7 linked regions of the Homo sapiens genome follow. The protein of the gene in region 1 purifies or fractionates together with the protein of each later gene. This does not show direct contact. Each region holds a gene or a part of one and is shown in the gene's direction. Other genes may lie near its edges.

The links.
Region 2: the proteins of CNTNAP3 (region 1) and SLC39A6 purify together in Homo sapiens (affinity purification with mass spectrometry; one large-scale study listed by BioGRID and IntAct). This does not show direct contact.
Region 3: the proteins of CNTNAP3 (region 1) and CPNE2 purify together in Homo sapiens (affinity purification with mass spectrometry; one large-scale study listed by BioGRID and IntAct). This does not show direct contact.
Region 4: the proteins of CNTNAP3 (region 1) and PLXNA1 purify together in Homo sapiens (affinity purification with mass spectrometry; one large-scale study listed by BioGRID and IntAct). This does not show direct contact.
Region 5: the proteins of CNTNAP3 (region 1) and ITGB5 purify together in Homo sapiens (affinity purification with mass spectrometry; one large-scale study listed by BioGRID and IntAct). This does not show direct contact.
Region 6: the proteins of CNTNAP3 (region 1) and CTHRC1 purify together in Homo sapiens (affinity purification with mass spectrometry; one large-scale study listed by BioGRID and IntAct). This does not show direct contact.
Region 7: the proteins of CNTNAP3 (region 1) and PLXNB2 purify together in Homo sapiens (affinity purification with mass spectrometry; one large-scale study listed by BioGRID and IntAct). This does not show direct contact.

The regions. Positions count from the first base shown.
Region 1 is NC_000009.12:39,064,040-39,068,729, reverse strand, and holds the end of CNTNAP3 (contactin-associated protein-like 3 isoform 1 precursor), read left to right. Parts: 3' UTR 1-4,020; downstream 4,021-4,690.
Region 2 is NC_000018.10:36,125,809-36,130,515, reverse strand, and holds the start of SLC39A6 (zinc transporter ZIP6 isoform 1 precursor), read left to right. Parts: upstream 1-1,175; 5' UTR 1,176-1,402; intron 1,403-3,499; 5' UTR 3,500-3,508; coding exon 3,509-4,297; intron 4,298-4,707. Other genes in the region: ELP2 (elongator complex protein 2), read right to left, coding at 445-582. UniProt on the Homo sapiens protein: Zinc-influx transporter which plays a role in zinc homeostasis and in the induction of epithelial-to-mesenchymal transition (EMT).
Region 3 is NC_000016.10:57,112,947-57,117,178, forward strand, and holds part of CPNE2 (copine-2), read left to right. Parts: intron 1-341; coding exon 342-521; intron 522-2,529; coding exon 2,530-2,604; intron 2,605-4,232.
Region 4 is NC_000003.12:127,027,805-127,032,036, forward strand, and holds part of PLXNA1 (plexin-A1 precursor), read left to right. Parts: intron 1-135; coding exon 136-282; intron 283-376; coding exon 377-536; intron 537-1,188; coding exon 1,189-1,292; intron 1,293-1,635; coding exon 1,636-1,732; intron 1,733-2,069; coding exon 2,070-2,260; intron 2,261-2,438; coding exon 2,439-2,608; intron 2,609-4,232. UniProt on the Homo sapiens protein: Coreceptor for SEMA3A, SEMA3C, SEMA3F and SEMA6D. Necessary for signaling by class 3 semaphorins and subsequent remodeling of the cytoskeleton. Plays a role in axon guidance, invasive growth and cell migration.
Region 5 is NC_000003.12:124,793,158-124,797,389, reverse strand, and holds part of ITGB5 (integrin beta-5 isoform a precursor), read left to right. Parts: intron 1-572; coding exon 573-1,002; intron 1,003-1,014; exon of another isoform or gene 1,015-3,469; intron 3,470-4,117; exon of another isoform or gene 4,118-4,232.
Region 6 is NC_000008.11:103,373,959-103,378,190, forward strand, and holds part of CTHRC1 (collagen triple helix repeat-containing protein 1 isoform 1 precursor), read left to right. Parts: intron 1-1,779; coding exon 1,780-2,001; intron 2,002-4,068; coding exon 4,069-4,232. UniProt on the Homo sapiens protein: May act as a negative regulator of collagen matrix deposition.
Region 7 is NC_000022.11:50,279,817-50,284,048, reverse strand, and holds part of PLXNB2 (plexin-B2 isoform 3 precursor), read left to right. Parts: intron 1-58; coding exon 59-216; intron 217-298; coding exon 299-447; intron 448-603; coding exon 604-712; intron 713-862; coding exon 863-999; coding exon of another isoform or gene 1,000-1,045; intron 1,046-1,167; coding exon 1,168-1,338; intron 1,339-1,498; coding exon of another isoform or gene 1,499-1,735; coding exon 1,736-1,865; intron 1,866-1,967; coding exon 1,968-2,195; intron 2,196-2,306; coding exon 2,307-2,483; intron 2,484-2,549; coding exon 2,550-2,689; intron 2,690-2,859; coding exon 2,860-2,960; intron 2,961-3,075; coding exon 3,076-3,305; intron 3,306-3,378; coding exon 3,379-3,560; intron 3,561-3,977; coding exon 3,978-4,044; intron 4,045-4,232.

The DNA.
Region 1 (4,690 bases):
TGAATGGAGTAGCTGTTGCTGAGAGTTCAGGTACACGAAGGTGGCTAGAGATTGCAGGATAGAGTACCGGCGAGGAAAGAGCTGCATTGGAGAAAACTTTGCAAATCTGGAGAGGGTCGCCCTTCAGTGTGTAACAAAGTGCATGAAACTACCTGAGGCAAGGGAAAGAAACACTCAAAAGAATTACAGCGGCATTTATCAACCTTTAAAAAATTATTATTGACCTCAAGGAATCTTTTTAAACATCTTTTCTAGTCACCTCTCTATGAATTTTTTAATTTTTATTTAATTTAATTTAATTTTATTTTATTTTTGAGACGGAGTCTTGCTCTGTCGCTCAGGCTGGAGTGCAGTGGCGCGATCCTGGCTCACTGCAAGCTCCGCCTCCAGGGTTCATGCCATTCTCCTGCCTCAGCCTCCCGAGTAGCTGGGACTACAGGCACAAGCCAACATGCCCAGCTAATTTTTTTTTTTTTTTTTTTTTTTGTATTTTTAGTGGAGGCAAGGTTTCACCGTGTTAGCCAGGATGGTCTCGATCTCTGGATCTCATGATCTGCCCACCTCAGCCTCCTAAAGCGCTGGTATCACAGGCGTAAGCCACTGCGCCCGCCCTGAAATTTTAATATCGCACATGCACTGCATATCTCTTTAGTACTATACGTATATCTGGGCTTTACACAAAAAGAATATTTTTCTTCTCTTCACTTCTCCCATCCCCCCCAAAAAAACTAATTTCTGTCGTTTTGGGGACAATATTACTCTCACTGAGAGTGCATGTTCACATACAACCATGAATAGAGGTGGTTGCCATGGGCTATACCAGAAATCCCCATAATTAATAGGGCATTAGGTAGAATATTCATAGGGGTCTTGCCTCAGTCCTGGCAAGTCCTAGACCATGTATTACTATGGCGGCCCCACTGAACAAATCTTCAAAGATTTGGAAAAAAAGATCAAACCGTTTCCAATAACTAATTGGCATCTCTGAGCAAAGTTCACATGTATTTCCAGTAACATAAAACTATCCAACACCAGGCCGGGCACAGTGGCTCATGCCTGTAATCCCAGCACTTTGGGAGGTCGAGGCAGGCAGATCACGAGGTCGGGAGATGGAGACCATCCTGCTAACAAGGTGGAAACCCCGTCTCTACTAAACATACAAAAATTAGCCGGGCGTGGTGTTGGGCGCCTGAAGTCCCAGCTACTCGGGAGGCTGGGGCAGGAGAATGGCATGAACCCGGGAGGCAGAGTTTGCAGTGGGCCGAGATTGCGCCATTGCACTCCAGCCTGGGCAACAGAGCCAGACTCCATCAAAAAAAAATCCAACACCCAACGAGGTAAAATCACAATGTCTGGTATACAATAAAAAATTACCAAGTGTGTGAAGAGGCAGAAAAATAGGACCTATAATGAGGATAAAAATCAATCTAAAATGACCCAGCACATACCCAGATGTTAGAATTACTAATGAAAAATATTATGACTATATTCCGTATTTTCAAAGATTAGGATGTGACAAGAAAAGGCTTTAATTAAACTTCGAGAGATGACAATGTTAATGTATAAGATTAAAAAATACAATGGATGTAATTAATGGCAGATGAGAGTTTTCAGAAGAAAATATTAATAAACTTGAATATATATAGCAGTAGAAAGCATCCAAAATGAAACAGAGACAGAAAAAAAACAAAGAATAATCAGAGTATCGGTGATCTGTGGGACAACTTCAGTTGCCTAATCTGTGTGTATTTGGAGTTCTCAAAGGAGAAAAGAGAGTGGATGGATAGAAAAAAATATTTTTAAAAATTAATACATAAGCATTTTCCACATTTGATGCAAACTATAAACCCACAGACCCAGCTCAACATCCCCAAGTAGGGGTGCTATTAAGAAAACCACATCACAACACATCATAAGCAAATGGATCAAAACTCAGTGTGGTAAAGAGAAAAAGACAAGTCTTACACAGAGAAGAAAAACAAGGATGATACCAGACTTCTTTTTGGAAGCAATGCAAGGGGAAGGGCAGTGGAGCAACATCTTTCATGCTTCCAGTGAAACATCTTCCAACCAAAAGCAGAAAACTCTCTCTCCTAGGTTTCTATACCCAGCAAAACCGTCTTTCAAGAAAGGATGAAACAAAGATATTTTTCAGACATAGAAAAGTTAAAAGTAATATATTATCAGCAAACCTGGACTATGAGAACAGTGTAAAAGCCTTTCAGGAAGAAGGAAAATAAAGAATAATATCTTTGTGCAGATAGAAACATGGATCCACACAAAGAAATGAAGAGCACTGGCAATAGTAACACCATAAGTAAATATACAATACCTGCCCTTATTACTTAAATATCTTTTAAAGATAATTGGCTGTTTAGAAATAATAGCAGTGTCATGTGAGTTCTGCAGCATGAGTAAAAGTAAAATATATGACAACAATAACCTAGAGTAAATGGAAATATAGTTTAGTTTGTAAGGTTCTTAGACTGTGTGTAAAGTCGTATAATGCCTATTAAAAGTTGGCTATTACAAGTTATCTTTAAGTTAAAACATCTGTATGGTGTAATCCCTAAAGCAAATGCTAGAGTAACAAAAACAGTGATAATATTACAATATTACACAATAATATTACAATGCAGCGATGAAATAGAATAAATTTTTAAATGCTTGAAAGTAGACAAAAAAGATGAGAAAGAGGACAAAGAACAAATGGGACAAATAGAAAGCAAATAGCAAGATATAAAATAAAAATCTGATAAATTTGACCTTAAGATTAACAACTCTCCTTTTAAAATACATTGTTAAGAGAATAAGAGTCAAGCTACAGACTGGGAGAAAATATTTGCAACACTTTATTTGAATGCTGTAAATTTTTTTCAGAATATAGTTCATAAAGAACTCTTAACAACTCAATAATTAGCAAAAATAAAATGAAAATAATGAATATAAGAAAAAATGACGAAAAGTGCTAGGCCAGTGGACAAAAAGCACACAAAAATGTTCAATATCGTTTTGTCATTAAGGAAATGCAAATTAAAACCACAGTGAGTTATTCTTCCCACTAAAATGGTTATGATTAAAAATATTGTCAGTACCACGTGTTGTTGAGAATATGGAGCAATTATAATTCTCATACATTATTGTTGGAATGTAAAATGCTACAACCACTTAGGAAAAATTGTTTAACATTGTTTTATATAATTAAGCATACATGAAACCTATGACCCAACAATTCCAATCCTAGATTGAAAAGAAATGAAAACTTATGCCCATTATAAGACTTACACAAGAACGTTTATAGCATCTTTACTTATAATATCCCCAAACTGTAAACTGCCTAAAAGACCTTCAACAAGAAAATGGACAAACAATTTGTGTTGTATTAATAATGAAATACTCTTCAGCTATAAAATGGACAAAACTACTGGTAACTGCAACAAACATGGCTGAATCTAAAAAACCTTGTGTTGAATGAATAAATCTAGACACTATAGGGTACATTCTGAAGTCCTAGAACAAGCGAAACTAAGATATAGCAGTAGAAATTGTATCAGTAGTTACCTGGGTTGAGGTGGGATGGGAGTTGACTGCAGAGAAACACAAGGGAAGTTTCTGGAGTGATGGAAATGTTCTATGTCTTGATTGACTATGGTTACATTGGTGTGGACATTTGTCAAAACTCTGAATTTCATATTTGGAATTTGTATATTTTGTATATAAATTATACTTCAATAAATATGTACATGTATATATATGTGTATATATAATACATTTTGATATGTCATGATGTCTATCACTTCACAGCATATTATATTTCTATCATACCATATTTACATAATGGAAAAAGATGAAAAGGATGCTGTATTTTGGGGAAATCACAAGAGATTATCACCTTTATTTATTTTTTATACAAATACATATAAATCTTTCACAGTACAATACAAATGTCAAAATGTGGTATTTTCATTGCTCTATAAATTCTTATATGTTCTATGTATGTAATAAATGTTAAAAACAGTGTTTATATGTTGTATATGTTTATTTGTTCTATGTGTTTACATGTTCACTGTTCTATAAATTCTCATATATTGTATACTATACAATCAGGTGATGAGCTGCTCAGTAAATAAGTGCTGAACACTCTGCATCCCTCATCACGTCAAGCATTTCACATCCCTTTTCCTGTAGGCTTCCACAGTAGACATTTGACTTGCCAATTACATTTTCATCCATCATTCTGGAGAAGCCTGGAGAAACAGCTAGACACAGGGGACATACTCCTATACCTTGCTCATTGTGCCTTGGAATTATACATATTGAAATATTGTAAAGATTTGCTTCATTTGTATCAACATGGCTGTGAAATTAGATGTCAACTCTACCTCAGTTCCAACTTTTAGGAGGAATCCAGATAGTTTATTAGAAAATAGAAGTGCAAAAATGTTTGCTGTTTGATTCTCAGACCATAGCCTGAGATTAGCAATATTAAAAAAAAAAATAGCAGACAGAAGAGGCCCAAGTCTCTCCCAGCTCCTGGGATGCATGGAAGCAATGGGCTGTGATGTCCTACTGAGGTAAAAGAAGTAGTGTTTGTTATAGTCCCACGAGCAGAAGCAGTAAGAACTTGAGGTAGGGTGCACCTAAAACTGAGAACAAGGGAAAGCTGAAGTAGGAAGTGTCACCAGGGAGG
Region 2 (4,707 bases), on another chromosome or scaffold:
TTCCTTGAAATTCAATACAACAAAAGTTCATTAACCAAAACTGAAGGAAATACTGAAATGAGATTGCACCTGTGGGATGATGGTTTTAATCTACATATAAATTTCAATTGTTTTAAAACCCAAATTGATTAACGGTACTACAGTTCCCAAGGAAGGCTTCAGGTAAGATGCTTATCATTCGGGTTTCTGCGTGGGACTAACAGGTTACTAGCAGCTCATGGGCAGCAATGACCCTAGGATGACGCCACGCGTGAGACGGCAAAGGGTGAGGGGTGAGGAGCGAGTCCGGCAGGTCCACTGGAGACTCCGAGCCCAAACCCCGCTCCCCTGAGCCGACCCGACTCGCCTCCTAGGTCTGGGGCGGCAACTAACAGCGCGCCCGGAGCACGTCCACAGGTTCAACCCGAAAAGCACAAGGGTCGGCCGTCCAGCGACCTCTCTTACCAGGGGGTCATAGAGCACCACGGAGCAGGACGTGCCAAAGGCCAGAAGTCCTCTGGGCCCAGAGCTCCAGTTCAGGACTCCCCGCACCCGGTTTGGGCAGCAAAACACGTGAGAAGTCTCCAGCACGGGTGCCACCATGTCGCCAACTGGTCAGCCGCACAAACAAGAGACGCGCACTTCCGCCCTCGGAGCGGAACTACTAGGGTGGTTTCTCCTGAGGCATCACCCAGTCCACGTTTCGCAGCCAGCCGAGGGCCAGACGGAGGCAGCCCCGCCCCCCTGAGACTCTCCGTTCCCACCGCAGGCTGGAACCCCTGTGCAAGGCCGCCGCTTTGCTAGCTCTGCTCTTGGACCGTGGCCCCGCTCCGCGAACGAGCCAGGCCTTTGTCTCAAGAGCGAAATCCGACCCGAGTGGCTCGGGACCCTCCCGAAGGACCCGGGGCTCATGTGCCTGGGGCAGCGTCAGAAACATCTCGCTGCCCCTTACGACCCGGCTCCCAGCAGCAGCCAGGGCTGGCCCCGGGGGCGCTGGCTAGCGAGTAGGGCCTCGAGGAAATGACCCCCAACTGCTTACAATGCGCTAGGGCCGCGCCACGCCCCCGCGGCGTCGGCGAACACACGGAAAAGCGGATCCGTCTGCGGAGCCGGGTTCCGGGGTCGCACTGCGCATGCCCTGCAGTCCTGGGCGAAGGGGGCGGTGGTTCCCCGCGGCGCTGCGCGCGGCGGTAATTAGTGATTGTCTTCCAGCTTCGCGAAGGCTAGGGGCGCGGCTGCCGGGTGGCTGCGCGGCGCTGCCCCCGGACCGAGGGGCAGCCAACCCAATGAAACCACCGCGTGTTCGCGCCTGGTAGAGATTTCTCGAAGACACCAGTGGGCCCGTTCCGAGCCCTCTGGACCGCCCGTGTGGAACCAAACCTGCGCGCGTGGCCGGGCCGTGGGACAACGAGGCCGCGGAGACGTGAGTCTTTCAGGTCCGGGAGCAGGGCGGCTGGGAGGGGAGCTCCTCAGGCCAGACAGGCGTGGCGGGGTAGGGGTGGTTCTGCGGAGAACCGGATCCTGCGGACCGGGCAGGGGGGCTACAGAAAGAGGATGCTGGGGGGAGCCCGCCGCAGGCGCCCACTCACCCTAGAGAGCCGGACTTCTTAAGGTGCTCAGATGGGCTTCGGGGTGCAACGGAGGATTTTTTGAGGAAAAGATCCGTACTTTTCATCCCATATTCGAAGAAGGGACTGACGTGTTTAGAAATAAAAAGCTTTTAGAAGAGAGCTTTGTGCCCTCTTTTCCGTTTTCTGTACTCGCCTTTTTCTCTAAGGCCCTTCCCTTCTGCTTTCCTTTTTCCTCCAGCACACACCAACTTGCAGGAAAGGAGATCCTTCAACGGGTCCACGACCGCGCTCAGCATCCTCCCTGGAGAAAGGCTCGGAGCTGTCCCCTGTGCTAGTCCCCTCCCACCCCGCTCCTCGCCTCTCTCCTGGGAATGATTTCTAAATGTTTATCTTTTACCTAGTAAAAGAATTCCCGAAACTTCAAGCCCCAAAGATTCCTCTTTCAGGAGCCTCGTTCTACGCCGTACCTCCATTTCCCACTGTTCCCTGTATGATACCTCGCACTTGTGCAACACATGAGTTTAACGAGTACTTGTAATATACATTCCTTCATGTGTTTTCCTCCTTCGCCTTGCAAAATAGGTTTTACCGGTATTTTAGATAAGGTAATGAATGCGAGAGCCCTGTCCAAAGAACAGCTGACCGTGGTAGAGCTGGATAGCCCCATGCTCTTGCTTAGTTGTAAACTTGACGTCTGCGTCTTTTGCTGGAGATGTGAGTTTGACCACCATCACCTCCACCGTTGGTGCTGGACATCCTGCTGGATCTGAATTAACTGAATTCTGGCTCTGCTTAACTGAATTCTGCTTTTCAAGCTCCAACTCAATTGCTTCCTCCTCTTTGGGGCACAGGCCTTTGGTTCCAAACACTACTGTGGATGATTAACAGCCTGTGATTAAATGTTGACTGGTTTGTAGTAACACAAGGATGCTACAGTGAGTTTTTCATGAAGTTCAGTTTACTTTAAGAATTCTATGTATGGACATAATGTGTCTGATTCATTGTCAAGTCGGAAAAAAGATTCAATGTGTATTTAAAGTATACACTTATTTGAGGCTGGGCGTAGTGGTCACGCCTGTAATCCCAGCACTTTGGGAATTGGAGGTGGAGGATCTCTTGAGGCCAGGAGTTCAAGACCAACCCGGACAACATAGTGAGACCTCGTCTCTAGAAAAAAAAAAAAAAAACTTTAAAAAAAAAATTAAGTATACATGTATTTGAGTATGCATAGAAAATATCCTGAGGGATACACTGGCAAAATTGAGCACCTTTGAGGATTGTGATTGGGGAAAGGGGTCTTAAATGGGCTTGTATGTAAGGAGAGTGTATTAGTTTAAAATTTTTTAAATATGTGAATTCTGAGATTATTATTTCTATTTTTTGGTGTTTGAAGGTTATTTTATGAAATGATGGTGATGATCAAGGTAGCTAGATTTCATTTCGTTCTTTTTTTTTTTTGAGACAGGGTTTCACAATGTTGCCCAGGCTGGTCACAAACTCCTGGCCTCAGGTGATCTGCCTGCCTCAGCCTCCCAAAGTGCTGGGATTATAGGCATGAGCCACCACACCCAGCCTAGATTTAATTATGAATCATTGGCCTCAATGATTCAAATAATCGTTCAAATAAATTCTCAACTTCAGTAAGCAGTTGATGGCTGTGGCCACATGGATCTCCCTTGTCTCTGAATTACTATTGCTTTTACAGTGCTAATGGCAGTCTCTTAGCACTCAGCTCTTCTCCAGTTGTTTCATGTGTTTTAGGAATGCAAGGGTAGAGCCTAGGACTCTAGTTCTTTCCATCTTCACAGTACCTAGCGTCACACTGGTCACACCACATGATGCTCTGGCAACTTTGATTATTTGATTACACATTAATTTTCAGTATGAGGTTTCTTAATTCAATTTGTTTTAGAAGTGAGTCAAGAATTTTTTTTTCCTGTCTTTTCTAGGAAGGCGCAATGGCGAGGAAGTTATCTGTAATCTTGATCCTGACCTTTGCCCTCTCTGTCACAAATCCCCTTCATGAACTAAAAGCAGCTGCTTTCCCCCAGACCACTGAGAAAATTAGTCCGAATTGGGAATCTGGCATTAATGTTGACTTGGCAATTTCCACACGGCAATATCATCTACAACAGCTTTTCTACCGCTATGGAGAAAATAATTCTTTGTCAGTTGAAGGGTTCAGAAAATTACTTCAAAATATAGGCATAGATAAGATTAAAAGAATCCATATACACCATGACCACGACCATCACTCAGACCACGAGCATCACTCAGACCATGAGCGTCACTCAGACCATGAGCATCACTCAGAGCACGAGCATCACTCTGACCATGATCATCACTCTCACCATAATCATGCTGCTTCTGGTAAAAATAAGCGAAAAGCTCTTTGCCCAGACCATGACTCAGATAGTTCAGGTAAAGATCCTAGAAACAGCCAGGGGAAAGGAGCTCACCGACCAGAACATGCCAGTGGTAGAAGGAATGTCAAGGACAGTGTTAGTGCTAGTGAAGTGACCTCAACTGTGTACAACACTGTCTCTGAAGGAACTCACTTTCTAGAGACAATAGAGACTCCAAGACCTGGAAAACTCTTCCCCAAAGATGTAAGCAGCTCCACTCCACCCAGTGTCACATCAAAGAGCCGGGTGAGCCGGCTGGCTGGTAGGAAAACAAATGAATCTGTGAGTGAGCCCCGAAAAGGCTTTATGTATTCCAGAAACACAAATGAAAATCCTCAGGAGGTAAGATGAGTGCTGTTCATTATTTTAATATACCTGTGTGTCTGTCCTGTCTCTGCTACTCTATCTCTAGTTATGAGGAGTTTAAAGTAAAAGTAAAATGTTGAAGTTATTGAAAAGGGAATTTCCACCTTCTCAGCAAGGCACTTGCCACAAAGCATGCCTGCTATGTTGTAAACATTCCCAATTCAGAACTTAGGGAACAGTTCTTTTGGTGAGCGTAGTGCTGCCTCCTACAATTTTTTCTAATACAGAATATAAAATATGTAGAGAAAGATATCAAGGCTATCTTTAGAGAAAGTCTATAAAGGTGAACATTATTAATAAAAAATAGAAAATGAGGGGTTGAAAGCAGGAGTTAGAATCCATATTGTAGGGAAAGGTGTGACTGAAGGGGCTGAAGACTACTGAGA
Region 3 (4,232 bases), on another chromosome or scaffold:
CCTCCATCTCTTACCCAGGCAGGGGCAGGGCCTGAGCTCTTACCCTGGCACCTGGGTAGGGAGCCAGGGCCAAAGAATTAAGAGTGTGGGTAGCAGAGTCAGACCTCGGTTTCAAATCTCGGCCCTGCTCCACAAGCTGTCCAGCCCTGGGGAAGTCACTTAACCTCTCTGTGCTTCAGTGTCCTTGTCTGTGAGCTGGGGATAGTGAGTCACTGACGATGACCACAAGAGCCTGGCACAGAGTAGGCATTGTACAAGTTAGCAGAATGATTTCCAGCAGCCTGCGAGGTCTTGGACCAGCTGCCTTGACTCTGACTTCCATTTTCCTGCCCCTCTGCTAGTACGACAGGACAGAAACCGCGATCAACAACCTCAACCCCGCCTTCTCCAAGAAGTTCGTGCTTGACTACCACTTCGAGGAGGTACAGAAGCTCAAGTTCGCGCTCTTTGACCAGGACAAGTCCAGTATGCGGCTGGACGAGCATGACTTCCTGGGCCAGTTCTCCTGCAGCCTGGGCACGGTGAGCTGGGCCCTCCTGGGTGGGAGCAGGGGCCCAAAGACCGGGCAACCCCTCAAAAAGTCTCTTCTCGTGCTGTCTTTCCCTAGCCCCATCTTCCTGGGTGGGTCCCAAAGTGCAGATGCAGAGTGGGGAACAGTCTTGGCGGGTTCAAGGCCGGGCTGAAGAGCTCCCATCTGGAGAGGCAGCCAAACAGAATGCCTCTCAGGATCTGGGGCCCCAGGTGGCCAGGGATTCCGATTGTTAGATATAATCAGGTGTGGTCTTGACCTCTGGGGGTAGGAGCATCTGACCAGCAACCAAGACACCCACAGTAGTCCCGCTTTGTGGCAGACTCACTGTGTGACCTTGAGAAACTTCCTTTCCCTCTCTGGGCCACACTTCCCCATCCATCTCAGTCCTTGGTAAGCTCCTGGAGGCCGGGAGCAAGCGGGGCTAGGCGCCCCTGACACAAGTCTCAATCATTCCTTATGGCTGTATGCCCTTGGATAAGCTCCCATCCCCCTCTGGGCCTCAGTTTCCCCACATTTTCCTTGGGGATTATGATGACTGCTCTGCCCAGCCTACATGGTTGATAAGGGAATGAAATGGAAAATGCTTTGAGGGGTCCTAGTGGAGACTGAAATGCCCGGGGCCTTCCAGGAGATGGTGACCATGCAGAAAGCAAGGGACTGCCATGGTTGTGATGTCTACTTTTTGCGTAAGAAGCAGGGTACAGTAGTCAGGGTCCCTACCCTGTGGTATAACTGAGAAGAGAGCTTAAGGGCTTGTGGACAGGGCAGGGAACTGACAAGGGATGGGGAAACCAGTCCAGGGCTTGGCCCCAGAGGAAAGCTGACCACCTTCACCTGGAAGGAAGGCAGGGTGAGGAAGTGGCATTGCCAGGGCCTGGTAAGACCTGTGGCCCATAGAGGGAGGCCTCTGGACTGCAACTGAGGCAGAAGACAGAGTAATGGAGAAGCTCCCATCAAACGGGGGCCCCCACCTCTCACGCCACCTGCTCTCCCGTCTCCTGCCCATCCCCCCAACTGGCTGAACCTCTGAAAGCCAGAGGGCAAAAGAGCCAGGTGGCACAGTCCCCAGGGCACAGAGCAGGTGTGTGGATCTGCGGAGAAGAACTAGCCCCACAGGAGCAGGACTAGATCATACTGATGTGTGCTCCCCGCTGCACAGGACGACGCTCGCACTGCACCCAGGAAGCACGAACCATGCTGGCCCCTGAGTGCAGTGGGCAGACACAGGTGGGAGGGTGACTTTGCAATGTGGCCCACTTTTCCTCTCTATGTTGTTTTGATTATTGCACCCTGTGTAAGTGTATTACCTATTGAAACCAATAAAAATAGAAAGAATTGGCCGGGCTCTATAGCTCATGCCTGTAATCCCAGCACTTTGGGAGGCCAAGGCGGGAAGATCGCTTGAGCCTGGAGTTCGAGACCAGCCTGAGCAACATAATGAGCCCTTGTCTCTACCAAAAAAAAAAAAAAAAAAAAAAAAAAGCCAGGCGTGGTGATGCATGCCTGTAGTCCCAGCTACCCAGGAGGCTGAGGTGGGAGGATCGCTTGAGCCCAGGAGGTTGAGGCTGCAGTGAGCCGTGATCGAGACCTGTCTCAAAAGGAAAATACATAGAATCTGAGCTTGACTCTGTCCATCAGAGATCATATCCTGAGGCAGGTGGGGTCTGTGGAATGCCTCTGGAGGAGGGAGTTAGGGGGCTAACCTCCCACAGTTGTCTCCAAAATGCCTTTTCCTAGGGGCAAACCAGGCAGTGGGAGTCCAACTGCAGCGGGAGACCTCAGGCGGGTCTCTTACCCTCTCTGGGCCTCAGGCTCCTCACTGCCCAGATTGGCTGCTGTCCACCTCCCAGGGTGATGATGATGCTCAGGCGGGTCACCAGCCAGCCAGGGCGGGGTGCAGCCCTGCCAAGAGGATTTTTCCGGTGCCGGTGGAGGATTTTTCCTTCCCGGGCTTCCCCCGCTTCCTCACTGAGCGCCCTTTCTCCTCTCTCCCCTAGATCGTCTCCAGCAAGAAGATCACTAGGCCTCTGCTGCTGCTGAATGACAAGCCTGCGGGGAAGGGCTTGATTACGGTACCAGTCCCCTCCCGGCTCTCCGCACCCCCTCCATCCCCACCCCACACCCTCCCCCATCAATGGGCCGCTTCCCTGGCAGATAATCACCAGCTTTGTTTGGAGTAAAAAGGCCCAACTTACAACTTAGCAACAGGTCTCTTAGCAACCGGCTGCTGGCTCCACAAATGATGCAGTGGGGGCTGACAAGCTGGGGAGGCCTCCAGAGCCCTGCCAGCAGCCCCCTCCCTGCACTGGCCCCTGCCTGCCCTCCCCTGGGGGTCGTTCAGAAGTGCCCTGCCCATCAGTGCCCTGCTTGTGGCTGCGACGCGCAATGATTCCTGCAATGCGCAACGACTCCCGCGATGCGCAGTAATTCCGCTGGAGATGCACAGGCCCTTCGCCCGGATGAGCTCCTTGGTCTTCAAAGACTCCCAGAAGCCAGGGCCACCCCTGAGACCCAGAGAGGAAGTTCCCTGGGGCAGCTGAGCTAGCGAGATCGTCCCCTGGTTGTCTGGCTGGCTTCTGAGCCCACGCGATGCCTGGGAAGCCGGCCAGGCTGGAGGGAGAAGCCATGCCTTTGTGTGTTCCCGTGTGTTACTCCCCTGTCCTGGAACCTCACATGGCTCCCCACTGCCTGACCAACCCTTCGGTTCAAGGCTGTGAAGGACCCCTCAGACCCTGCCTGGCTCTCCTGCCTTGGTGTTTTTTTAATCTCCTTCACTTAAATGCCCTGCGTTCAAAGCAAACTGAATTCTTAGCATATCCTGAACATACCTCAGGCTCTTACTCTGTTCCTGCCCCCACGGATCACCACCTCCCAAACAACCTCCCCCAACCTCTTGGTTCCTAACTGGCCCATCTAAATGCCTTCCCAGGCCAGGTGCATGGCTTGCACCTGTAGCACTACTCCTTGGAAGGCTAAGGCAGGAGGATCCCTTAAGGCCAGGAGTTTGAGGCTGCAGTGGGTTATGATCATGCTACTGCCCTCCAGCCTGGGCAAGAGAGTGAAACCCCATCTCTGAATGAATGAATGAATGAATGCCTTCACAAGGCAGCTTCCACCTAGAAGCCATCTCAGACAGACCCCACTCACCCGGGTATGCCATCACCCCAGCATTTCTGGCAGTTCCACTCTAGGCCTCCATCCCGTCCCCTGGGAAATGGGGGTGATAATAGGACCTACCCTATAGGGTTGTTGAGCAAGTCCCAGTGGGAGGACGGCAGGGGAGAACGGGCAACATGGCTGGCCTCTGTCTGTGGGTCCAGAGGGCCAGATGCCTTGCGCTGGGTGAGGCCATCCTAGAGGCAGGAGAGGAGAGGAGGCCCCAGCGAAAGGCCCCAGCCCACTTGTGTTGCTGTGGGCAGCAGGGGAGGGAGAGAGGCCTACAGGGGGCCTCAGCAGTCTCGAAGTCGCCCAGCTAGGCCATCACTGGCTGGGCTGGGGTCAGGGAACCATAGCTGATGGGGAATGCATGGAGGACAGATGACCAATGTGAACTGATGGGACTCAGTTTCTCCCCTGGGCCTCAGTTTCCCTAGCTGTACAATGAAGTGGCTGTGATGCTGACACCTTGGTGTTCTGAGGAAGCTGTGCTCTCTGTGGCTGCCGCAGGGGCAGGAGAAGGCCGGTCATGCTGCTCTCTGGG
Region 4 (4,232 bases), on another chromosome or scaffold:
GCCTCCCAAAGAGTTGGGAAGTGCTGCTCATTTCTCCTTGCCAGGAACACCATGGCTGGCACTCGACGGGTGGAGGGGCAGGTTGGGGGTAGGCCCGGGGGTCCTGGCTGCAGCCTCATGCCGCCACCCCCGCAGGAGTGCGCTGGGGAGCCGCTGTTCATGCTGTACTGCGCCATCAAGCAGCAGATGGAGAAGGGCCCCATTGACGCCATCACGGGTGAGGCACGCTACTCCCTGAGTGAGGACAAGCTCATCCGGCAGCAGATTGACTACAAGACACTGGTGAGCGTGGCTGCCCTCTGTCCTGGGTGCCCTGGTGCCCCCCACCCCCCAGTTGTGGGGCTGACGCTGCCCCCTTGCTCCACCCCGCCCGCAGACCCTGAACTGTGTGAACCCTGAGAATGAGAATGCACCTGAGGTGCCGGTGAAGGGGCTGGACTGTGACACGGTCACCCAGGCCAAGGAGAAGCTGCTGGACGCTGCCTACAAGGGCGTGCCCTACTCCCAGCGGCCCAAGGCCGCGGACATGGACCTGGGTGAGCGGGCGGGGCCACGGCTGCCCGGGGTGTGTGCTGGAGCAGAGGGGCAGGGCCATGGCCTAGTACTGAGCTTGGCGGGGAAGGCCAGGCCAGTCCTCCACACCAGGCTGGTCTGGAGGGCAGTGGAATGGCGAGTGGGCTGTCCAGTCCCAGGTTGGGTATAGAGGGTGGCTGCCCTGCTCTGGGCAGAGACTCTGGGAGGTGGTGGGTTCCAGTGCACTCTGGGAGGCAGTGGGCTCTTGGAGCCCTGAGGGGGATACTCAGGCTCATGAGAGGGGCAGGTGGAGCCATTGAGGGCCAGAGGGGATGGGACGGGTTTGGGGTGGGGCCCGGAGTCCTGCTGCAGATGTGACTGGAGAGGCTGGGTCCCCACAGAAGCCTCGGTGCCAGGCTGAGGAGTTGGGGCCCTAAGGCTTGCGGAAGGCAGGGCAGACCCCCTTAGGCTGGGGCTGCTGTGGCAGATTGGGAGGGCTGTGGCACATTGCAGGGGACTATGGCAGGTTAAGTGTGCTGCAGCAGGGGCGGAGGTATGTCCCTGCCCTGTGCTGGTGCTGAGAGCTGCAGGCAGGCCCCGTCCCACTACACTGCTGTGATGGAGGAGGGAAAGAGGGCCCCAGCGGCCCCACCCTCCAGCTCCCTCCTCCCCCAGAGTGGCGCCAGGGCCGCATGGCGCGCATCATCCTGCAGGACGAGGACGTCACCACCAAGATTGACAACGATTGGAAGAGGCTGAACACACTGGCTCACTACCAGGTGGCTCCCGGCCCTCCGACCCTAGCACAGGCCTCCCTCCCCTTGGGGCTTCCACAGCGCAGCCACCAATGTTTGCAGCATGTGGGCTGGACAGCAGCTGGATCTGTCAGGGAGAGGAGGGGAGGTGGTCACTTATGTGTGTGGACCGTCCCAGGACTCGAGCTGGGCTTGTGGGATTGCCTAGCATCCCTGGGCTGTCCTGATATAGAGTTCCAGACTGAGTGAGGTGGCTGCCTCCAGGCACAGCACTAGGGTGTCACCGGGGTCCCCAGCCGGGGAGTGGGAGCCTGGTGGTGCAGGGGCACCCTGGTGGGTCACAGGGTCCCTGGCCCTCTGCCCACAGGTGACAGACGGGTCCTCGGTGGCACTGGTGCCCAAGCAGACGTCCGCCTACAACATCTCCAACTCCTCCACCTTCACCAAGTCCCTCAGCAGATACGGTGAGGGGCCAGGCAGCGGGCGAGAGGGCAGCGCATGGGTCCCTGGCCTGGGCAGGACGTCCCCCGGGCTCCCACGCTGCAGCAGCCGGACGGGAGGACCCAGGGGCAGGTGTCAAGCCTGTCACTCGCACTCTTGGCCTTACCCTCCAGCTCTGGAGGCTGCGCCTCCTCGCGACTGTGTGTCCGTACACAATTATGCCACCTCTGTGGTGTCATCGGCTGCCCCAAAATCCCACATGGGTGGGGGTGCCATCCCCAGCTTTCAGATGGGGAAACAGGCTCGGGCGGGGGGTGCGGGGTGCCAGCCAACGCGGGCGCTGACAGCCTGGTGCTGCAGAGAGCATGCTGCGCACGGCCAGCAGCCCCGACAGCCTGCGCTCGCGCACGCCCATGATCACGCCCGACCTGGAGAGCGGCACCAAGCTGTGGCACCTGGTGAAGAACCACGACCACCTGGACCAGCGTGAGGGTGACCGCGGCAGCAAGATGGTCTCGGAGATCTACTTGACACGGCTACTGGCCACCAAGGTGGGCCTGGCTGGCAGATGGGGGCAGGGGACGCTGGGCCAACTGAGCTCAGAGAAAGTGCCAAGCCCAGAGCAAGGGCCTCACCCCCATGCTCCCATGGCCACTTGCCTAGTCACCCAGGAGGTGTAGGCAGCCAGGCAGCGCCCTGGGGCTCAGTGTCCCTGCCTGCCCCCCGCAGGGCACACTGCAGAAGTTTGTGGACGACCTGTTTGAGACCATCTTCAGCACGGCACACCGGGGCTCAGCCCTGCCGCTGGCCATCAAGTACATGTTCGACTTCCTGGATGAGCAGGCCGACAAGCACCAGATCCACGATGCTGACGTGCGCCACACCTGGAAGAGCAACTGGTAATGCAGGGCAGGGGGAGGAGGGGCATCCCCCAGGGCCAGGCCAGATGTGTTCCCAGGGCCCTCGCCCTGTTCTGATCCGGAGCCCCCACTTGGGGCTCCCTGGCGTGGGGACACAACCCAGCAGGGGCATGGCGGGCCAGTCCTGTGCTAACTGGCCTTCCCTATCTGCCTGTGCCCCTTGACCCACGGCTCGCCCTCTGCTCCAGCCGCTGAGCCCCTCCCACTGCTGCAGGAACTGTGTGCAGGTGTGAGTGGCTCTGGGTGTGCACAGCTGTGCGGACATGAGTGTGGGCTGCAGCGTGAGAAACAGGGCACAGTGGACCAGCCCCAAGCCGGCTGGTTGCAGTGATGAGGGCAACAGGGACTGCAGGTACTCCTGGTAGTCTTTAGTGCGAGGAATTTACAGCCTCCCCATTGCAGTGTGGGGCCAGGCCAGAGCCTGCTTACTGAGGCGCAGAGGCCGAGCCACTTGCCACGGTCTCACGGAGCAGCTGGAGTACGGAGCAGGGCCTGCCCAGCCTGCACCGTGCACAGCTACACCAATGTGAGCTGGGGCTCTATGAGGCTGGGTTTTGTTATGAAGAGGCACCCAGCCTCTGAGTGGCCTCCCTCCAGAGTATCTGCCTCCCTGGCCAGCCAGTCCCTTGCTTTCCTCCGGCCTGGCCCACCCCTGGGACAGTGACCTGCTTCTTCCCTGGTCATGGACTGCCCAACTCAGCAATGTTGGCTTCCTCTCTGCCACACAGGCAGGCCAGCCCTTGGCCTCACTCCTTACTCAGGACCCCCAAGCTCTGGTCTGTGGCCCCCTGCTCCGGTTGGCACACTGTAGCCACACCCTAGCCCCTGGAGCGGGTCCCTGCTGTGTGTGTGGCCCCCACCCCAGCAGACAACCCCACCATTGCCTGCTACAGGGGAGCCCCTCTCTGTGCACCAGGCCCCTCTACCTGCATGGCCGAGGGCTTCTGGGGTAGGACTGCTCCCCCACACCTGGGGTCAGGTGGATGCCCTTGCCTGTATGGCTGGACCCTGCTTCACCAGGAAGTGCCCCTCCTCACCGTGCATCCTGCTGGGGTCTCCCCCCAGTTCTGTGCACACTCTCCACTGTCTTAGCTCCCCTCTCTCCTGGACTGTCCCTGCCACTTCTGCTGGCTCCCGGGCCAGCAGCCACCCCCGACTTGGTCTTGTCCATCCCATGTGTTGCTTCCCAAACCTGGGATGCAGCCACCCCAACCTGTCCCAGCTCCGCCCACTGCTCGCGGAGTCTAGGATTTAAATGAAGTGTCACGAAGCCCCTCTCCTGGGCCATGCTGATTGGGCACAGCGGGAGGTGGGGCCTCCAGGGACGCAGTGTCTCCAGGTCAGCATGTTCTTGGAGAATGTTCTGTCACAGTGGAACATTCTAGACCCGTGCTGTCCAGGGTGGTGGCTCCTGAGCCTTTGAAATGGCACTGGTGTGGCTGAGTGTCTGGGCTCTTCACTTCATTTAAGTTAAGCAGCCACGTGTGGCCAGTGCTGCCAGGCAGCCCAGCTAATGGCAGTCCCTGAGGTGGTGTTTGGGGCACAGAGGGCTGGTCTCTGCAGGAATGGGTCCCCTGGGCCGGAGCTGAGCTGCAGGTCTCAG
Region 5 (4,232 bases), on another chromosome or scaffold:
GGACTCGGGGGTGTCTGGAGAGCAAGCTCTGGAGTCAGCTGAGCCCTTTGCCAGCAGGCACAGAGCCCTCTCTATGGCGGGCCAGGTGGGTGCCCTTCACCCGGCACCCTGTGAGAGTGCCATTGTGCCTGGCACAGAGGCAGCGCCCAGGAAATGTTTTTCCACCAAATGACTTTTTAAGTGAGCAGAGAAGAGGCATCTGCAGCGGGGCTGGGAAGAGGATAGGACAGAAGAGAAAAGAAAGGGAGAATAAGAACTGTGTGAACTCAAGGAAGCCCTATAGCTTTCCGCAGGGGCCCATTTCCTCAGGGTCATGGGGATGCAAAGAGATAATGAATGTTAAAGAATTCACCTGTCAAATGTGAGCTCACCTGTGCATTCTCTTCTCCATGAAGCATGGGAGCTTGCTGGTTCTGAGGTCTCTTCCTACTCCGGCCATCTTGGTGGTTCTACCTGAGTGCGTGGAGAGGGCTGGAGTTCGCAGCTGCTCTTCATCAAGGGCCCTGCCCCTGGGTGAATGGGAGACCCTGGCTTGCCGCAGCCATGATATCCCTTCTCTTCCTTCTGCCCAGGCATCTTTTGAAGTATCATTGGAGGCCCGAAGCTGTCCCAGCAGACACACGGAGCATGTGTTTGCCCTGCGGCCGGTGGGATTCCGGGACAGCCTGGAGGTGGGGGTCACCTACAACTGCACGTGCGGCTGCAGCGTGGGGCTGGAACCCAACAGCGCCAGGTGCAACGGGAGCGGGACCTATGTCTGCGGCCTGTGTGAGTGCAGCCCCGGCTACCTGGGCACCAGGTGCGAGTGCCAGGATGGGGAGAACCAGAGCGTGTACCAGAACCTGTGCCGGGAGGCAGAGGGCAAGCCACTGTGCAGCGGGCGTGGGGACTGCAGCTGCAACCAGTGCTCCTGCTTCGAGAGCGAGTTTGGCAAGATCTATGGGCCTTTCTGTGAGTGCGACAACTTCTCCTGTGCCAGGAACAAGGGAGTCCTCTGCTCAGGTAAGTGTCCCCAGCAAGCACTTTAGCTCTGAGCCAGGCCAAGATGCCGTTAGGACACCCTCCCAAAGCCTGCCTTTTACTCAGTGGTGGTAGAAAGTGTCACTACCATGGCTCTCCTTGGAGAAGACAGTGGGCAAGCCTTGCTACCCGTAGGCAGGAGGTGGGGATCTGTGTGCAGAATACGAAAGCAGAAGGTATTGCCATAAATTGTGGACTCTCAGAATTCGAGGGGCCTGCGTGGGTCATCCACCTTACTTCCCAATTCATGCAGGACTGGCCTGCACAGCATTCCTGACAGGTAGAGATGTTCAGCCTCTTCTTGATTGCCTCCTGGGACGGGGAACTCACTGGGGCTGGCAGTGGCCATCTGTCCCTTAGCCAATGAACTCATATCTTATTGCTGCTCCCATAACTCACCACAAACCTGTTGGCTTAAAATAATACACATTTAATCCATTACAGTTCTGGAGGCCAGAAGTCTGAAATGGATCTTATTTGGCTAGAATCAAGGTGCCAGCAGGGCTGCATACCTCCTAGAAGCTCCAGGGGAGAATCTGTGTCCCGGCCTTTTCCAGTTCCTAGAGGCCACCTGTATTCTTTGGCTTGCAGCTCCTTCTTCCATTTTCAAAACCAGCAGAGTAACATCCTCAGATCTCTCTGACTCTGACCTCTGCTTCTGTTGTCAAATCCTTCTCCCTCTCCTACAGACCCTTGTGGTTACAAGGGACCCTCAGTCGAACCCTGGAAAGTCTCCCCATCCCCAGGTCCTCAGCTTACTCACATCTGCACAGTCCCTTTCACCACGTAAGGCCACACAGTCACAGGTTCCAGGGATTAGGATGTGGACATCTCTGGGGGCTCTTATTTTTCCTGCCAGAATTCCTCTTTTTTTTTTTTCTGAGATGGAGTCTCACTCTGTTGCCCAGGCTGGAGTGCAATGGCAGGATCTCGACTCACTGCAACCTCTGCCTCCCAGGTTCAAGCAATTCTCCTGCCTCAGACTCCCGAGTAGCTGGGATTATAGGCGCCCGCCACCACACTCGGCTAATTTTTGTATTTTTAGTAGAGACGGGGTTTCACCATGTTGGCCAGGCTGGTCTTGAACTCGTGATCTCAAGTGATCCATCCACAGCCTCCCAAAGTACTGGGATTATAGACGTGAGCCACTGTGCCCGGCCCAGAATTCCTCTTTATACTGAAGAGAAACTTGTTTCTCAATAACTTCCTCCCAATGGTTAACATTCTAGAGTCCCCCTTCCACGTGACAACCTGTCAAACATCTAAAAGCTGCTTTATGTTTCTCTGTTCTCTCTTCTGATCTAGGCTAGACACCCCAAGTCTCTTCCTTGTCCGAGGGTGCTATCATTTGTGAAGCATGCTTCACATAATCAAGTGCGTTACTTGTCATGCTGGATGATGAGGGCTTGGTCCAGGGTTCAGTGAAGCATGCGTTTCCTGTGATTTGGACATTCTGCTTACATGGATGCACCCTGACAATACATTCACCTTTTTTTATTTTCTTCTTCTTCTTCTCCTTCTCCTCCTCCTTCTCCTCCCTTCTCCCTTCCTCTCTCTCTCTCTTTCTTTCTTGTTTCTTTTTTTTTTTGAGATGAAGTCTCGCTCTGTTGCCTAGGCTGGAGTGCAGTGGCACAATCTCAGCTCACTGCAACCTGTGCCTCCTGGGTTCAAGTGATTCTCCTGTCTCAGCCTCCTGACTGGCTGGGATTACAAGCACCCACCACCACGCCTGGCAAATTTTTTTTTTTTTAAATAGATATGGGGTTTCCCCATGTTGGCCAGGCTGGTCTCGAAGTCCTGACCTCAGGTGATCCACCCACCTCAGCCTCCCAATGTGCTGGGATTACAGGTGTGAGCCACTGCGCCCAGCCCACCTTTTCGTTCTGTTAAACAGTCACAGTATACTCTTGAGCTGGTTTTTAACTTCACTACCAAAAGTTTGAGGCTTTTAATTTATTTTATTTTTTAGAACTGTGGTTCAGAAGGAGAGGTACTTTTTTAGTGTGTTGTGTTGGAGCCCTTAATTTTCTGAATCTAAACACAGGAGTTTACACTGATTCCAGTTAAATGACAAGTTGGCAGTTCCCACTCTGGTATTGCGTTCTGATTAAATGCTTCAAAATTGTATCTCAAAGTTTATCTAACACCATGCCACCTGTAAAGGTAGTAAGTAAAACAGTTTTAGGCAGGGCTGTGGTTTCTTCTACACATCATGTATTCTGTGGTTTCCAGGGCTCCCTCCTTAAGAATGGTCTTCCAATTGGGATGGGTGGATTTGAAAGGAACTAAGGGATCAGCTGGGAAAGAAAGCACAAGGTGCATCTGAAGCAAACCAGGAACGTGCAGATACTCCGTCCTATGGGAGGAGGAATTGTACTGCCACACAGGGTTGCACAGACGTGGGTTAACAAGGGAAGCTTCCTGGAGCGGACCTTGCCGTGACACAAGCGTGAGTACACCCATGGGCGTCGTGGGACCAGCATGTCTAAAACTGGAGTTGCCCTGGAGAGTGCAGGACTTAGCAGTGTCATTGCAGAGTAAAGTAGGTGGAAAAATCAGGATTCAACATGCCAAGCATGCAACAGGGATCAACGCTTTCCTCAGCAGAGTGATGATAGGTTGGTGTTAGCTAGATGGTTCTGTCTGGTTAGTAGAAAAAGTTTGGGCTCCATAGCAGGAGGCCTGGGCCTAAGTCCCATCATACCATATCTGCTAGTGTGACTTGGGCATAGAGTTGTTATGAGGAATAAGAGATGTGTGTGAAGCACCCAGTATTTTGCCTGGCACAAAAGGAAAACACACCCAATGCTGGCTCCTCTATGAGTCAGTGCCACACCCCTCTGGGGGGGCCACACCTGGTTCCCCATGTGCAGGAGGGCCCCGCCTTCCCCCAGACAGTCCCCAGGCTTTGCCTAAAAAATTCCAGGGTGGTGGAATGGAGTTTCCATTCCTCTTAGTAGCCATAATAAAAGCTCTAAGCAGCCTGGCAGGCTTTTTAGCAGTTTTTCTTTTAAAGAGATATTAGCAAACGTGACAGAACCATCCCTCCTTCCCCTTCAGGATCCTGAAATAACCCTCTGGTATGTCTTCACCCTAGAAGCCTGCGTGTGTCCATGCAGCCTGGGAGCAAGGGCGTTTGAGTCAGATGCTGTGTGCACGTTTCATCTCCACAGTTCATCAGGCTGTGACCTTGGTTGTCTTGGACTTTGGCT
Region 6 (4,232 bases), on another chromosome or scaffold:
TAAAATAAAAATAAAGTCTAAAACACACCAAACTATTTTGAAATATTTTGCACTTTTAAAATGCTTTACTTTTTGTGTCTTTGAATACTTTTGTAATTGTTAAATGCTTTTTCTTTTCTTTTTTTTAACTATTTCTCTGACAGTAAATAAGTAGTAGTGTCTTTTTCTTCTTACAGTCAGGAAAATGGCGATGTCAAAGACTTAAAAAGTCATTTATCAAACCAAAACTCAAACTGGCGATGGAGACACAAATTGATTAGCAAGCATCAGTCTAATTATATAGGATTCTTCCCAGACAACTATTGGATTTTATCATCCAATCCCAGATACTGTAGTCAAAAGATAAGCTTTGAAGTTACTTTAATATCTAAGAAACTTTGTTTTTTGTTTTCATTGGGAAATATAGTTATACAGAATAATACTAGGCAACTTACACAAATAGAGGAAATGTTAGAGTAAACATTTAAATGGATTGCATTGGGTTTTGGAGTGTCTAATAAACGGCACCTTTGTTCCTAGCTGAACCAATTCAGGTGTAGACACAGGAATTAGACAGGTGGGGCACAGGATATCACCTTTACCACTGATCATACAGCATTGGCATGTATGGCTTATGTGTGCTAGGCTGGTGGGTTTGCTAATGCTCTCTTCCCCAGGTCTAAATCCTGAAAGGTCCACCCAGGGCAGTGGACACACTTACCCAGAGTTGCTGCCTTGCACTGGTCCTGGGGAACATAGGAATAATAATGGCTGACACATACAGTGTTTACTGTGTTCCAGGCATTGTTCTAAGCACATTTTATATATTATTCACTTAAATCTCATACAAACCCTATAAAGTAAGACTCTTTATTATTATCCACATTTTACAGATAAGGAAACAGGCACCAAAATGTTGAGTAATTTGCCCTATCTCACAGAGCTAATGTAAGGTGGAGCCGGGACAAAATCCAAAGAAACTGGCTCTAGAATCCATGCATTTAAATGCTACAAGATGTCCTTCTCCAAACAAACAGAAAATCATAGTCCTTACAGACAGTTTGACAGATTGTGGATGGTCCCCTATTGAGAACTAATGGTCACTTGAAACTGGGTCACTTACTGCTTCTCCTTGGGGAAGAGGGGTGGGATGAGAGGCCAGAAATGTTATCCAAGCACTGCTTCCCCCACTTAAAAACAGGGAGAAGCAGGGATTTTCATACCCAAGTTGGAGCTATTGCCAGTACAAGATAATTATTGACTCTTAAGATTTTATTTTATAATTATGTCCCTAGGAATTTATCTTAAGGAAATAATTCAAAAGAAGAAAAAGGCTGTATGGATATTTTCATTACAATAATATTCATAATAAAAAAAGTAGAAATAAACTATCCAAAAATAGTGCAATGTTTGCATAAAACTGTAAAAATCCAGGTCCCTTTGCAAGATACAGAGTTAGAAGAAAAAAGCAGAATATCAAATTATTCCCACCTTGGAATACAGCTATTTAAAATTGTGTATGCCTATAATGAGCAGAAGGGAGCAGGCAAATAATTTTGTCCTCCTCTGATGTGTGTGTGTGTGCGTGTAAAGTCTGTGCACTAAAAAATATGAAGGAAATCACAATATTTTAGAAATAATTTGAAAATGAATTCTCTGTAATAACTCATCTAGAACACGGGCATGTGGTATGAAGGGATTCTTGACTCCAAGGGCTCAAAATAAATGCATTTCTAATCATACTGAGTCTTTGACTCTTAAGTGGTGAGAGTTTTCTTTGCCTTTTCTTTCTCATTATAGTATAATGGAATGTGCTTACAAGGGCCAGCAGGAGTGCCTGGTCGAGACGGGAGCCCTGGGGCCAATGGCATTCCGGGTACACCTGGGATCCCAGGTCGGGATGGATTCAAAGGAGAAAAGGGGGAATGTCTGAGGGAAAGCTTTGAGGAGTCCTGGACACCCAACTACAAGCAGTGTTCATGGAGTTCATTGAATTATGGCATAGATCTTGGGAAAATTGCGGTAAGTTTGAATTATTTTAAAATTGAAGCAAGATTTAAGGGTTTTCATATTTTAGTGTTAATTTTTAGGTGACATTTTATTTTTTTTTAACTAAAAGACTTAAAAAAGAGAAGTAGGTAGCATGTGACTTTTAATTTAAAACTAATGAAAAAGTTTATAACATTTCAGAATTTCATAGAGATATTTCTAAGACAAATGCTTATCATTTTAACCATAGTATCTAAAATAACATACTTTTTAAAAATGCAAACAAAAGAGAGCATATGTGTCTGTGTTGGACAGTAAGCAACTTTCCAATCTTATCCTAAAGTAAATTTAAATTTAGTCTAAGAAATTCTGTCCTGGCTTCAGACATAAAGGTGGGAAAAAATTTCCAAGAAATTACCACATTGATCTGGAAGCAGAAGTCCATTGGTGTTTGTCTTTATTTAGGAAGCATGCCCAGCTTAAAACTGCTAAGCCTAAGAGAAGTGAAATGGGTTAGATGTGAGGTACTACAGTGATTATTTTAAGTTATTCTGCAACATTAAGGCTGAGTGGCAGAGAATTACTCAAAATAGCCTGTCCGGTCATGTATTTTGACTAATGTTTCAGTCACTTTGATTAGTGTTTGCTTCAAAAGTAATTGGCAAGTCCACTGGGATGGAAGAGAGTTGAAGAAGTTGATGCTATTTATAAGCCTCTTTTCTCTGTTGATGAACTCTGTACATGGTTCCATATTCACAACATATTACTTCATGATTTTACTGCTACCATCAAGCAATTACAAGAAATTTGTTTCATAAAACTCCAAGATTTTAAGATGCACTCTGTGTATAATCCCTGTTCCTTATCTCAGCTCTTTCTGCTCTATTAAGAGTTTGAGACTGTCTTGTTTTGTGATAGAATTTCCATGTAGCTTCCATAGTTATGATGACTATGACCTTTTCTGTGTTCATGTGTGTTTCTAGAAAACATTTTGTTAAAATGTTCCCTAGTTATTTAAACATCTGACATTGATAGACTGGTTGTTTATTTATAGTTGTTCATCAAAAGTTACTGAGTTCTTTCTAAAAGCTATCCTTGTGGGTTCTGAATTATTAATATGTTTTCAAGTTCCTTTTAGCAATGGTCAGGATGGGTATGGTAACCTTCTATGAGTAAAGGATAATAGGTCCATGAGCCAATAGACAGACAAATTTGCATAGACCAATGAGAAAATAAGCAAACAAGAAACCTGGGCCTTATCATTGCATCATATAGATAAAGACTAAAAACCCTGCCTATCCTTTACTCCCTCATACTGTTTGCTGTTGCTCGAAAAGAAACACGTCAAGAGTCAATACGAATGGACAGAACTAGTCTAGAATGTAAGTTCCATGAAGGTAGGGATTCTGGTTTGTTAACTGCTCTATCTGTACCATTTAGCACATAGTTGGGGCTCAGTAAATATTTTTTGAATGCAAAAAAAAGAGGAAATATATAAATTGATTTTATCAAAAGTACTGAAGGCTAGCCTTTTTTGATAAAACTGAAAGATACCCTCAATGGGGCGAAAAGTTCTGAGAAAGCTGCAATTTGATTTTCTTAGAGTTCCTATATCAAAATCTCTTACCTAGCTTGCAGAAAATCTCCCTCCCTCTATAAAAGTTAAGCTTTATTTTTGTTTATTTTAATTTTTTTGAGACAGAGTCTCACTTTTTTGCCCAGGCTAAAGTGCAGTGGCACAATTTCGGCTTACTGCAACCTCCACCTCTTGGGTTCAAGCGATTCTCACGTCTCAGCCTCCCGAGTAACTGGGATTACAGGCGTGCGCCACCACACCCAGCAAATTTTTTGTATTTTTAGTAGAGATGGGTTTCGCCATGTTGGCCAGGCTTGTCTCTAACCCCTGGCCTCAAGTAATCTGCCCCCCTCGGCCTCCCAAAATGCTGGGATTACAGGTATGAGCCACCACACCCGGCCAAGTTAAACTTTTTAAATACATTTTGGGGAAAAGGATAGTTAAGTAAAATTCACCAGTCTCAAAAGCTCTTTTTAATTAAAATAGAAAATGTTAATTAAATCCCATTTCTATGTTTGTGACAGGAGTGTACATTTACAAAGATGCGTTCAAATAGTGCTCTAAGAGTTTTGTTCAGTGGCTCACTTCGGCTAAAATGCAGAAATGCATGCTGTCAGCGTTGGTATTTCACATTCAATGGAGCTGAATGTTCAGGACCTCTTCCCATTGAAGCTATAATTTATTTGGA
Region 7 (4,232 bases), on another chromosome or scaffold:
GGAGCAGGTCGGGGGCGGGCAGGCACGGGGTGACCACTGACGGCAGCTCTCCCCGCAGTGACCCTCTACAACTGCTCCTTTGGCCGCAGCGACTGCAGCCTGTGCCGGGCCGCTAACCCCGACTACAGGTGTGCGTGGTGCGGGGGCCAGAGCAGGTGCGTGTATGAGGCCCTGTGCAACACCACCTCCGAGTGCCCGCCGCCCGTCATCACCAGGGTGAGCCCCTCGAAGCCTGGCCTACACCTTCCCTCGTCCCTGGCATGAGCCCCTCCCTGCTCACCCGGCTCTGTGGTTTCAGATCCAGCCTGAGACGGGCCCCCTGGGTGGGGGCATCCGCATCACCATCCTGGGGTCCAATTTGGGCGTCCAAGCAGGGGACATCCAGAGGATCTCTGTGGCCGGCCGGAACTGCTCCTTTCAGCCGGAACGTTACTCCGTGTCCACCCGGTGAGTGGACGGCCCTGGTCTGGGCCCTGTCAGCTGGGTCAGTACCCACGCTGGGGTTCCGGGTGACTGGGTGGGTGGGGAGGCTGAGGGGGTGAGGGTGTCAGGGTGTGGGGTGGGTCGGGGAGTGCCTGGGCCACACTGCCTGTCGCCCGCCAGGATCGTGTGTGTGATCGAGGCTGCGGAGACGCCTTTCACGGGGGGTGTCGAGGTGGACGTCTTCGGGAAACTGGGCCGTTCGCCTCCCAATGTCCAGTTCACCTTCCAAGTAAGCACCCGGCCTCGGGGACCTGCCGAACCCGGGAGGACCGGGAGGAGGGGCTCTGCCCGCCGCCTCCCCACGACAGTTACCATCCAGCCCAGGACCGAGGGCGTCCTGTGCCCCGTCCTCACCCGAGTGCCCCTGCGGCTCTTTCAGCAGCCCAAGCCTCTCAGTGTGGAGCCGCAGCAGGGACCGCAGGCGGGCGGCACCACACTGACCATCCACGGCACCCACCTGGACACGGGCTCCCAGGAGGACGTGCGGGTGACCCTCAACGGCGTCCCGTGTAAAGTGTGGGTGTCACCGCCAGCTGCTGAGTCTGGTTGGCCCTGGCCCTGGGTATGGAGGGGGGCACTTACTGAGACCTGAGTGGCCCTGAGGGGATGGCGGGGCCAGCCTGGTCGGGCTGGGGCTGGTCCCGGGGGAGGGGTTGATGCAGACCAGCACCCTCCCTCCCCCAGGACGAAGTTTGGGGCGCAGCTCCAGTGTGTCACTGGCCCCCAGGCGACACGGGGCCAGATGCTTCTGGAGGTCTCCTACGGGGGGTCCCCCGTGCCCAACCCCGGCATCTTCTTCACCTACCGCGAAAACCCCGTACTGCGAGCCTTCGAGCCGCTACGAAGCTTTGCCAGGTGAGGCTGGTGTCCCCCCGCCCCCCTCTGCTCCCCACACCCAGCTGCCTCCTCAGTGCCCTTGGCTGACTGTGCTGAAAGGAATGTGGTGGGGCTGGTCTGTGCAGCGGGAGGCGGCCTCCGGAAAACCCCACTGCACTCCAGATCCACTTCCTCCTAGAAACCCAGATGGGCACACCAGAGGCTCCACGCTCACCAGGCCCCGTGTGCCCCCCGCCCACTTGCGGCACAGTCTCGTGCTCAGCACGTCCCACCGCGTTGCCCCTTTGCCCACCGAGACCCACACATGCACCTGGAAGCCCCGTGTGGTCAGGGCCAGGGTGGGCGGGGACGGGAGGGCGGAGGCTGCAGGGACCACCCCTGCCAGCCGAGCCCACGAAGGCACTGCCCTCCGCAGTGGTGGCCGCAGCATCAACGTCACGGGTCAGGGCTTCAGCCTGATCCAGAGGTTTGCCATGGTGGTCATCGCGGAGCCCCTGCAGTCCTGGCAGCCGCCGCGGGAGGCTGAATCCCTGCAGCCCATGACGGTCAGTCCTGGCGTGGGCTCAGCTCTGGCACCGGCCCATGGGATCGTGCCCAGGAAGGGCGGGGTCTGCGCCCGGGGGCTGACAGCTGGGACTTGCCTGCAGGTGGTGGGTACAGACTACGTGTTCCACAATGACACCAAGGTCGTCTTCCTGTCCCCGGCTGTGCCTGAGGAGCCAGAGGCCTACAACCTCACGGTGCTGATCGAGATGGACGGGCACCGTGCCCTGCTCAGAACAGAGGCCGGGGCCTTCGAGTACGTGCCTGACCCCACCTTTGAGAACTTCACAGGTGGCGTCAAGAAGCAGGTCAACAAGCTCATCCACGCCCGGGTGAGGACGGTGCAGCCCCGGGTGTCTGGGTCCTGCTCGGGTCTGGGCTGAGAGCTGGTCCACCTGTCCCTGGTTCCCTCCTCCTCACCCCGACCACTGCCGCCTCCCCAGGGCACCAATCTGAACAAGGCGATGACGCTGCAGGAGGCCGAGGCCTTCGTGGGTGCCGAGCGCTGCACCATGAAGACGCTGACGGAGACCGACCTGTACTGTGAGCCCCCGGAGGTGCAGCCCCCGCCCAAGCGGCGGCAGAAACGAGACACCACACACAACCTGCCCGAGTTCATTGTGCGTGAGCGGGGACTGGCGGGGGGTGCCCCCACGGGACCGCGCTGAACCCGGCCCCCCACACAGGTGAAGTTCGGCTCTCGCGAGTGGGTGCTGGGCCGCGTGGAGTACGACACACGGGTGAGCGACGTGCCGCTCAGCCTCATCTTGCCGCTGGTCATCGTGCCCATGGTGGTCGTCATCGCGGTGTCTGTCTACTGCTACTGGTGAGCCCGCCCCCCGGCTGTGCCAACACCCTGAGCCCTCGGCCCTCCCGCCTCGGCCCCTCTGGCCTCATCCGCCGCCCTGCACAGGCAGGCGTGTAGATCCACCTCCTCATCCGGGCAGCTGAGCGGCCAGCCCCGGCAGAACCTAGGAGGCCCGCTGTGCCTTGCAGGAGGAAGAGCCAGCAGGCCGAACGAGAGTATGAGAAGATCAAGTCCCAGCTGGAGGGCCTGGAGGAGAGCGTGCGGGACCGCTGCAAGAAGGAATTCACAGGTAGGGACCGCTTGGGGGCTGGTGCTGGGGCGCCTCCTGGGGCGGGGATGCTGTGTGTAGCGTGGGGGTCAGGGCCCCACGTGGCCAGGGACGTCTCACGCCAGCCTCCCCCCAGACCTGATGATCGAGATGGAGGACCAGACCAACGACGTGCACGAGGCCGGCATCCCCGTGCTGGACTACAAGACCTACACCGACCGCGTCTTCTTCCTGCCCTCCAAGGACGGCGACAAGGACGTGATGATCACCGGCAAGCTGGACATCCCTGAGCCGCGGCGGCCGGTGGTGGAGCAGGCCCTCTACCAGTTCTCCAACCTGCTGAACAGCAAGTCTTTCCTCATCAATGTGAGCCAGGCGTCGGGCGGGCGGGAGGGCACACAGGTGGCGCCGGGCAGGCTTTGACCGCCGGCCCCTACAGTTCATCCACACCCTGGAGAACCAGCGGGAGTTCTCGGCCCGCGCCAAGGTCTACTTCGCGTCCCTGCTGACGGTGGCGCTGCACGGGAAACTGGAGTACTACACGGACATCATGCACACGCTCTTCCTGGAGCTCCTGGAGCAGTACGTGGTGGCCAAGAACCCCAAGCTGATGCTGCGCAGGTGCACATGGGCGGGGCCACGAGCGGGGCCACGGGCGGGGCGGCCGCAGGGGCTCTGGGGCTGGTGGCGGGTGGCACAGCGGCCTGTTGGGCCCCCAGGAGCCGGCAGGTGCCAGCCAGCGCTGGTGGTGGGGGGCGGTCTAGGGGTGGTGTCCCCGGCCACAAACTCAAAGCCGGACTCTAGCCCTTCCTGTCCAGCGGTTTCAGCTGGTCACAGTGTCAGCCCTCTGCAGAACAGAAGGAAGGTGGCACACTTCCCACAAGGGCTGGAGCTGCCACCAGGTAGTCCTCGCTGCAGGCCACACCCAGGCTGGACAGGGGCGAGGCTGGCGCAAGGGTGGCCGGGTGCTTGGAGGAGTCAGTTGGGCCTCAGGAATACTACGGGGTCACTCGGTACAAGGCCTCCCTGCACCCCCAGGTCTGAGACTGTGGTGGAGAGGATGCTGTCCAACTGGATGTCCATCTGCCTGTACCAGTACCTCAAGGTGGGTTCCACCCCAGCCTGGCTGGGGCTTGAGGGATGAGGCAGACTGCTGCCATCCCCTCCTGCGTTCCCCTATCTGTACGGCACCTTGAGGTGGGCCCTGCCTGGACAGGTTTGCTTCCTGCCCCTGACATGGTCAGCCCCGTCCATGCCTCTGGCCAGGGCTCCGGGGGCCCCTTCCAGGCCCCA